Linked DNA regions of Homo sapiens: region 2 is linked to region 1. A link means that fine-mapping ties the variant in region 1 to the expression of a gene that starts in the linked region. Tissue or cell type: sun-exposed skin. Region 1 holds a variant in brackets; the other region holds the start of a gene. All regions are shown on one strand. Distances are between the middles of the regions.

Region 1 (4,000 bases):
TCCCCAGACACAGTAATATTCACAATCAGGTTTGAAATTATTTTAAAAATATAGGTGATTATATATTTACACATATGCACAGGAAAAAAGAATACATAATAAAATGTTAATGATCTACCTAAGGGTGGTAGATTTCAGGAGATTTAAATTTGTTGTTTTTTTTTTTTTGGTTCATCTATATTTTCTCATTTACCTCTAATATGAAACACTTGTGTATCAAAAGAAAAGCATATACTTTTAAAACAAAGTGGGAAATTATTTTCAATTACTATTGTTTTGGGTTATCAATACCACCACTGTTTATTGCCCTGGGTGTAACGAGGCCATTTTGCAACTACATCCAGCCAGGCTGAAAACACTTACTTTATTCCGAGTCCATCAGAATTCTTGAAAATCAGAGGATCTCTCAAGCCACCCCGCTGAATATACTCTACATTAAAATCTGTCACCATAGGAAAATATTAGAAAGATAAGTGGTATAATTAAAAACGATAAAAGGACCATAAAAAGGATCCTAAGTAATACAGTATAAATGGTGTTTGTTATTCTGTGTATATAGTTATGCTGTTAGTCAATAAAATATATGCTTAGTAAGAAGCATCTCTTAGAAAATATGGAGAGCACATTGAGAAGCAACGCTTGAGGGGTTTTCCAAGTCTATATTCCAAGTCTAAATTTCCACAGGAAATTTAGAGCTTAAATAATATGGGGATAGGACTACTAATAGTGAGTCATCTTATAAATGCTAAACAGAAATTATCATCACCCTGTCTCTGAAGAGTTAAAAAAAAAAAAAAAAGGGCCAGGTGTGGTGGCTCATACCTGTAATCCCAGCACTTTGGGAGGCCAAGGTGGGCAGATCACCTCAGGTCAGGAGTTCGAGACCAGCCTGGCCAACATGGCGAAACCCCGTCTCTACTAAAAGTATAAAAAAAAAAAAAATTAGCCGGGTGTGGTGGCACGTGCCTGTAATCCCAGCTACTCAGGAGGCTGAGGTAGGAGAATTGCTTCAACCTAGGAGACGGAGGTTGCAGTGAGCCGAGATCGCACCACTGCACTCCACCCTGGGTGACACAGCAAGACTCCGTCTCCAAAAAAAAAAGTAAACAAAACATTAATTTTGACCACTACAATACATATATGACATCCTTGTCAGTTTGCCAAGGATCAAAGATGCACGGTGCGCATGGAATCCCACCCTCAGTTTTGGTGGGGTAGATATATACATAAAAGGATTTCTATTGTACTATTTTTAATTAAATTTAAACCAAGGGATAGAAGAAGGAGGAAGAGGCCGTTAGGCAAAAAAATCCAACAATACTCCTGCCCTAATAAAAAGATTACTTCTAATATAGGAGAGAATGACTCACAGGGTGGGAGGACTGGGGGATAAGTGCATGCAAATGGCATTGTATAACAAGAGAAAATAGATAGATAACATCAACAGGCAATATTTTAGCTGGATAAAGGCTAAACCCCCAATGCTCAGAGTCTATGGCTTCCCACATCAAAGGACTGTAAGCTGGAACCAAAACAATACTGACCTTTTCCTTCCATAAAAGTAACAAAATTGGCATTATATTTGTTGGTGTGCAGTTTCTCTTCCAAGTCAAAAGTTCTTTTTCCTTCAATTTCATCATCTGAAATGCCATCATCTTCATAGCGTCGTCGCATGGTACCACGCTAGGAAAGAAAGGAACATACTGATGAAATCATGCACTTTTTCATGCCTACCTACAAGTGGTCATAGATTTCCCTACATGTGCAAAGTGCTACTTTCAAACTCAGTTGCTATTTTCCTTGCCTTATGGATCTTTTCTTTCTCTCAAGATAGCTGATATTCTCAGAATCCACAGAATATAATGAAGTTTCAATGAGCCACTGGGTCCTCTATGAATTTTACCCTTGCTAATTCTTTGAGCCTAGAGATATAAATTCACAATAAAAACAGGACCAAAGAGGGTCTACTAAATATTTCATTTGTCTATCACTGTTTATCAGAGTGGGCACAAACTGTCTTCATAGAAATTTCAAGCCAGGATACAAAATATAATTTTTTCACAGGGAGAGCTGTATTTAAAATTAGCTTGGTAAAGCAATCTCAAAAACACATTTGAATGAATGGATCAAAAACCCTTGTCTCAGATAAAGGAAGAAAGTTAATCTAAATAACAGCATTCCAGGCCGGGTGCGGTGGCTCACGCCTGTAATCCCAGTACTTTGGGAAGCAGAGGCAGGCGGATCACCTGAGGTCGGGAGTTCGAGATTAGAGACCAGCCTGACCAACACGGAGAAACCATGTCTCTACTAAAAATACAAAATAAGCTGGGCGTAGTGGCAC[A/G]TGCCTGTAATCCCAGCTACTCAGGAGGCTGACGCAGGAGAATCGCTTGAACCTGGGAGGTGGAGGTTGCAGTGAGCCAAGATCGTGCCATTGCATTCCAGCCTGGGCAACAAGAGCAAAACTTCGTCTCAAAAAAACAAAACAAAACAAAACAAAAAAAACCCAGCATTCCAAATAGCACACCATCAATATTTAGTTTTAAAGATAACATGTCTTTCCAAAGAAGATATACAAATGTACAATAAGCACATGAAAAATGCTCAATTCTCATTAGTCATTAGAAAAATGCAAACCAAAAACCACAATGAAATACCACTTTATACCCACCAGAACGGCTATCATCAAAGAGATAAACAATAACAAGTGCTGATGTGAATGCAGACCAACTGGAAGCCTCATACATTGCTGGTGGGAATGTAAAATGGTGCAGACACTGGTAAACAGTTTGAAAGTTTCTCAAAAAGTTAAACAAAGTTATCGTACGACTTAACAATTCTGCTCCTAGGTATATAACCCAAAGAACTGAAAACATACGTTCTTCTTTTCAAAACAAAAGCTTATACACAAATGTTTACACTAGTGTTATTCACAACAGCCAAAAGATAGAAACCACCCAAATGTCAATCAATTGATGAATGCATTAACAAAATGTGGTATACCTATACAATGAGATATCATTTAACCACAAAAAGGAATGAAATAACGCTATGTGCCATGACATAGATAAACTCTGAAAACATTATGCCAAATAAAAAAAAAGCCAGTCATAAAAGACCACATATTGTATGACTTCATTTAAATAAAATGTCTAGAATAGGCAAATCCATAGAGACAGAAACTAGATTCATAGTTGCCAGGGGCTAGAGAAAATGAAGAATGGGAGAAGTGACTGTTAATAGTATGGGTTTTTTCAAGAGCAATGAAAATGTTCTGGAATTAGATAGTGGTATTTGTATGACCCTGTGAATATACTAAAAACCACTGGATTGTACACTTTATTTTATTTTTTATTTTCTGAGATGGGGTTGTGCTCTGTCGCGCAGGCTGGAATGCAGTGGCTCCACTAAGGCTCACTGCAACCTCAACCTCCTAGGCTCAGGTGATCCTCCCACCTACAGCCTCCCATAGCTGACACCACCAGTGCACACCACCACACCCAGCTGATTTTTTTATTTTTAGTAGAGACAGGGGTTTCCCATGTTGGCCAGGCTGGTCTCGAACTCCTGTGCTCAAGCGATCTGCACGCCTCAGCCTTCCAAACTGCTGGGATTACAGGCTTCAGTCACTATACCCAGCTGACTTGTACACTTTAAATGAGGAGACTGTATGGTATGAGAATTCTATCTAATAAGCAGTCACTTTCAAAATGTTGCTTATACTGCAAGTTTACCTTTTAATACAGTCATGCACAGTATAATGACATTTCAGTCAATATATATGAACTGCACATATATGACAGTGTTCCCATGAGATTACAGTAGAACTAAAAAATGCTTATCTCTTAGTGACACTGTTGCCATCAGGACATCATAGCACAACACATTACTCTCGTTTGTGGCAATGCTTGTGTAAATCTAACTGTGCTGCCAGTCATGTAAAAGTGTAGCACATACTGTTAGGAATAGTACATAATAAATGACTGTGTACCGGTTTATGTAT
Region 2 (4,516 bases), 120 kb before region 1:
GACCTAATTTGGCCCTATTGGCTCACACAGGACAAACCTCCCCTGTTCTTTCCCTTCCAGAGACCTGCAGCCATGACCTCGCCCTGTCAAAATATCTCTGCCCAGGCCGGGCGCGGTGGCTCACGCCTGTAATCCCAGCACTTAGGGAGGCCGAGGCAGGCGGATCACGAGGTCAGGAGATTGAGACCACCCTGGCTAACACGGTGAAACCGCATCTCTACTAAAAATACAAAAAAAATTAGCCAGGCATAGTGGCGGGTGCCTGTAGTCCCAGCTCCTCGGGAGGCTGAGGCAGGAGAATGGTGTGAACCCGGGAGGTGGAACTTGCAGTGAGCCGAGATCACGCCACTGCACTCCAGCCTGGGCAACAGAGCGAGACTCCATCTCAAAAAAAAAACAAACAAAAAACAAAACATCTCTGCCTGAAACAGCAGGGTCACTGGGATATGGGTAACCCCAACACTCCCCAGGCTGCCCCCTGCCCTCACACCATTGCTCCCCAAGCAGACACATACACAGGGCTCCATTCTGCCCTCAGGCGTGTCTCTTCCCCCCACCCCCCGGAGCTCCACATGGGCCCTCACCAGGCGGATGTCATCCTGCGGCCTCAGCAGCTGTACCATGAGGTGCAGGTGCTGCCTCTGCTCCTCCTGCTTCTGGGGACTCTGGGATCCTTGCCCGAAGTCTGTCTGGTCCCCGTGGAGCTCCTCCTCACTCGGGGCCTTCTCTGTTGGCTCAGAACTGGCCTCTGCTGCATCATCATTGTCCCCTCCATCCTGCAGTCCCAGGACAGCCCCACGGAGCACCGCAAAGCTCTGCCTGGCAGGGCAGTGGGCAACTGTCATGGCTCCTCATTCCCCTTAGGGTAGGGGCTCTCAAAGTCTAGCATGCATCACATTCACCTGCAGCCCTTGTCTACACGGATTCATGGGCCCCCACGCGGTCGATAGGTCTAGAGTGGAGGCCTGAGCATCTGCATTTCTAACCCCTCGGCCCCTTGGCAATATTGCTGAGAACCAGTCTTGGGGGCTTCCAAGCTCTCAGCCCCTCTACTCTAGCTCATCTGTGGGGAGAGGGGGCTGCTCCTTTTCCCCTCCCACCTGTTTAACTCAAGTGCTGCTGGGAACATGGTCGGGGACCCAGGAGTCCTCAGGCCCATCATGCCCTCCTGCCGTTCGGCCCGTGGCCACCACCTGAGCCAAAGCCCAGGGCAGTGGATGAGGAAGCCCCAGCTGACCAGGGGGAGGGTGAAGGCAAAGGCCGCCCTACCGCGAGCCCACCAGCCGGCCCCACCGGGAACGCTGCCCCACAAATTTGGCAGTGGGCTTCGCTGCGCGTCCTCCGGGGAGCTTTCTGTCCCTGCAGCTGGAGCCCAGGACGGCCGTGGCCAGGCCCGGGGCAGACGGAAGTGTCTGCGTGGGGGAGGTGGCGCTCACCTTCGCTGGAGTCGACTCCTTCGCTGGACCGCCTGGTCCTGCGGAGAGAGCAGCCCCAGGGCAGGGTGAGGGCGGGGAGGGCTGTCCCCTCCCCTCTCTCAGGAATTCTAGAGTTGGGGGAGGCCAGAAAAGGCGCCAGATGCCAATCGTCTTCCCACCCCAGTCCACGCCCCACCGGGAGGCCCCGTGGAGCCCCGGCCCAAGGCCAGGTCGGCTGGGTGGGCGCCGAGTGTGGCGGGGGGCGCGCTCAGATCGGGGCCTCCGCAGCCCGGGCGGCGCGCAGGGCTCTGGATTGTGCCCCGGCGCCAGTACCAGAGACCCTCGAGGCCCCCAGCGCCCTCCAGCCCGAGCCCCGGGGCCCCCTCCTCATGTCCCCGTTCGAGAGGAGCCCGCTGGCGGGCAGGACGCGCTCCCAAGCCGGGGCAGCAACTGCGTGGGCGGCACCACGGCCGGACCACACTCACCCAGGGCCCCACGGGCGTGGAGGCGCCGCTGCCCGGGGGCGAACGGCTCACTGTGACCAGGGCCATGGAGCCAGGCCGCGAGCACCTGGGCTGGCACCGGGCACGGCCCCTTCCCTCAACCCCGCGGACAGTCCTGGACCCGCAGGACCAGGAAGGACGGACGGCGCCACCCGGGCCTGGCACCTCCTCGGGGGCGGCCCTTAAAGGGCCAGACACTCGCCCAGCCGGGCCCGCGGAGCTTCTCAGGGCGGCCGGGCCCCGCCCCTCCGGTCTCCGCTGTTCGGCCCGCCCAGCCCCTGGGCACAGGTCAGGGGCGAGGCCGGGGGCGGGCGCAGGTGCGGAGCCCGGAGACCCGGAGGGCAAGAGCTGAAGGCCGGGAGTTTGGTCCCCCTCCCAGGAAGCGCCCGGCCCGGGCCGGCCCAGCGGGAGCACCTGAGCTGTTCTGGGCCTCCAGCGTCCTGTGCCCTGCAGAGGCGGGTCCTAGGGAGGCAGAGCTGAGGTGGGGAGGTGGGGGACAGGTCTAGAGAGGATCAGGCACGGCGCGCCCTCGGCCAAGGGCCCCCACCCCAAACATTTCTCCCTGCTGGTCGGCCTTCTCGTTCCCACTCCGCAGGAACCACTGGAAGACAGGCTTCCGGGGAAAACGGCCTGGGGTTTACAAATAACCCAGGAAGCCCATGAGGGGCTCTCAGGTCCACCTCGGAGGCGAGCAGGGCAGGGCTTCCAGCTACGCAGGCGGAAGTGACTTGCGCAAACCCACCCGCAGAGAACAAGCCGCAGTCAGGGCCAGGGCCTGGGCTTGGCTGCAGGGGTCGGCGTCGGGGCTCTTCCCAGCTGGAGGTGAATGGTGCCTGGGGACCCAGGCTTTTCCTCCCCAGCAGGCACGTGGGCCGGTTTCCAGAAGACTAGGCTGGGTGGCAGGACGAACCGGGTCCCCAGCAGGTGGGACAGGGCACAGGGGATCTGACTTTCACAGGACGCCTGCTTGGTAAGGACACGTGACTCTCGCCAGCTCCTTTCAGCCCTGAGGGGCGGAGGGTGGGGGGTGGTCTCCTCATTTTACAACTGAAGAAACTGAGGCTCAGATAGGCTAAGGGGACCATGACCAGGATTCAAGCCCAGGTCTGAGGCCGCCATCCACAGTGCCTCTCCACAGCGCCCCACCTTCAGGGTCCCCACCGCTCCAGCCCAGTGAGCAGAGCAGCCCTGCTGCGACAGTCTCTTTATTTCCATCTCAGTCTCCCCTGCCTGCTCATTCCTGGGGCTCCAGGCCCCAAGCTCAGCAGCAGAGAGTTTATAAATAAATAAATTACAAAAGCGGGCAGGGAGTGGCCTGGCCAGCCCTCCCGGGGCTATGGCTCAGTGCTCAGTGAGTGACAGCTGCAGGATCCGCTGTAAGTCCTCCTCCTCCTGCTGCCCGCGCCGCTCCCGCTCCTCCTGCTCCCGTGAAGACAACTCCAGGGCCAGGCGCAGCTGCTCTTCAAAGCTGGGTGGACCGGGGGCTGGGGGTGTCCTGGGAGGGGATCCTGGGCCCCTGGGCTCTGTGGACAGCTGCAGGCTTTCCTGGAGGGCCCTTCCAGGCAGGGCAGGGGAGGGAAGAACAGGCCAGTGAGCGCCAAGGCTGGGGCAGAAGCCGAGGGGCTGGGGACCGGCTTTGGAGGACAAAGGCAAAGACAGGGTGGCAAGCAGAGGAGACAAGGCAGGGCCCTGCTTCCCCACCCCTCACACCACCTTTGGTGGCAGATAGCGCTGCTGACAGAGGGTGGCCTTGCAGAGGGCCTGGGGTCCTAGCACCTTCCTGCTATCCCCCTCCCCGCCAAGCCAGGGCTGGGGGGACAGGGACCCAGCCAGCCCCATGAGGGGCTCACCGCTCCAGCTGAAGCTGTTCCTCATAAACCGTGGCCTGGGGAGGAGGGCGGGCACCGGGCCGGGTGTTGGTCAGGGCTTCCCAGACGGTCACCTGCAGCCACCAGAGCCCACAGCTGTCACTTCTGCCGTGTGGCTGCAGAGGCCAGAGCCCACCCCCTGGGCAAGTCCCACCTGCTCCGCCTCAGTGCCCGCTTCAAGCAGGCTCTGCTGGATGGCGAACTGCAGGAGGTCATCGTCCTCGTCCCGGAGGGGCTCGTTGCGCTCCATGCCCAGCACGCTGTACCCGTTGGGCACTTCAAACACGGTGGGGTCCACCTCGCACGGGAAAGGGTTCCCTAGGCAGGTGGCAGAGGGGCCACGCTCAACCCGCGGGGCTTGGTGACCAGAAAGCTGTGCAGGCTCCCTCTTCCTCCCGTTGGGGTACCTGATGCGGCAACAGCAGAGCTGGGGGCCGGCACCCACACGGAGCTCAGGGGCTCATCACAGCCACACAGGTTGCTGAAGGTGATGCGGGCATTGAGCACGTGGAAAAGGGGAATCTCTGTGAGAAGACAGCCACGCCTGAGCCCTGGCGGAGAGCCACCTGTGCCTCCGGCCCCTGCAGCTCTCCAGGGACTGCGCTGAGGGAGGGTGCCATGCCTGAGGTCCTCCCGCTGCCTGTGCCCAGCCTCTCACCAATTTTGACGGGGAAGCCAGGTGGAAGGCGCAGAGTGATGAAGTCGCGCAGCTTGGCAAAGTGAGCGTTGC

Which allele goes with the higher level. Positions count from the first base shown, and alleles are read on the strand shown. Sizes are in standard deviations (SD) of each study's normalised expression.
For the expression in sun-exposed skin of the gene that starts at base 2,062 in region 2, A is the high allele of the variant in region 1 and G is the other (large effect, 0.84 SD a copy in GTEx).

What was found. PIP is the estimated chance that this variant, and not a neighbour inherited with it, causes the effect. A credible set is the group of variants that fine-mapping cannot tell apart.
Region 2: SSH3 starts here. The variant in region 1 is the best candidate, but not a certain one, in a credible set for the expression of SSH3 in sun-exposed skin (GTEx, PIP 0.53).

What each region holds. Positions count from the first base shown.
Region 1 is chr11:67,177,762-67,181,761 of GRCh38, reverse strand. KDM2A (lysine demethylase 2A) reads right to left here. Exons shown (of 21, transcript NM_012308.3): 3 at 1,545-1,683; 4 at 364-442. Among named protein-coding and RNA genes, the nearest start is that of KDM2A, 60 kb to the right of the region's middle. The variant A/G (reference allele first, on the strand shown) is at 2,342.
Region 2 is chr11:67,301,076-67,305,591 of GRCh38, reverse strand. SSH3 (slingshot protein phosphatase 3) reads right to left here and starts at 2,062. Exons shown (of 14, transcript NM_017857.4): 1 at 1,901-2,062; 2 at 1,437-1,474; 3 at 585-819. The coding sequence starts at 1,966. It overlaps ANKRD13D (ankyrin repeat domain 13D), which reads right to left. Exons shown (of 15, transcript NM_207354.3): 11 at 4,445-4,516; 12 at 4,194-4,310; 13 at 3,941-4,104; 14 at 3,769-3,860; 15 at 3,108-3,473. The coding sequence ends at 3,260. RefSeq lists enhancers at 1,875-2,394, 2,395-2,912.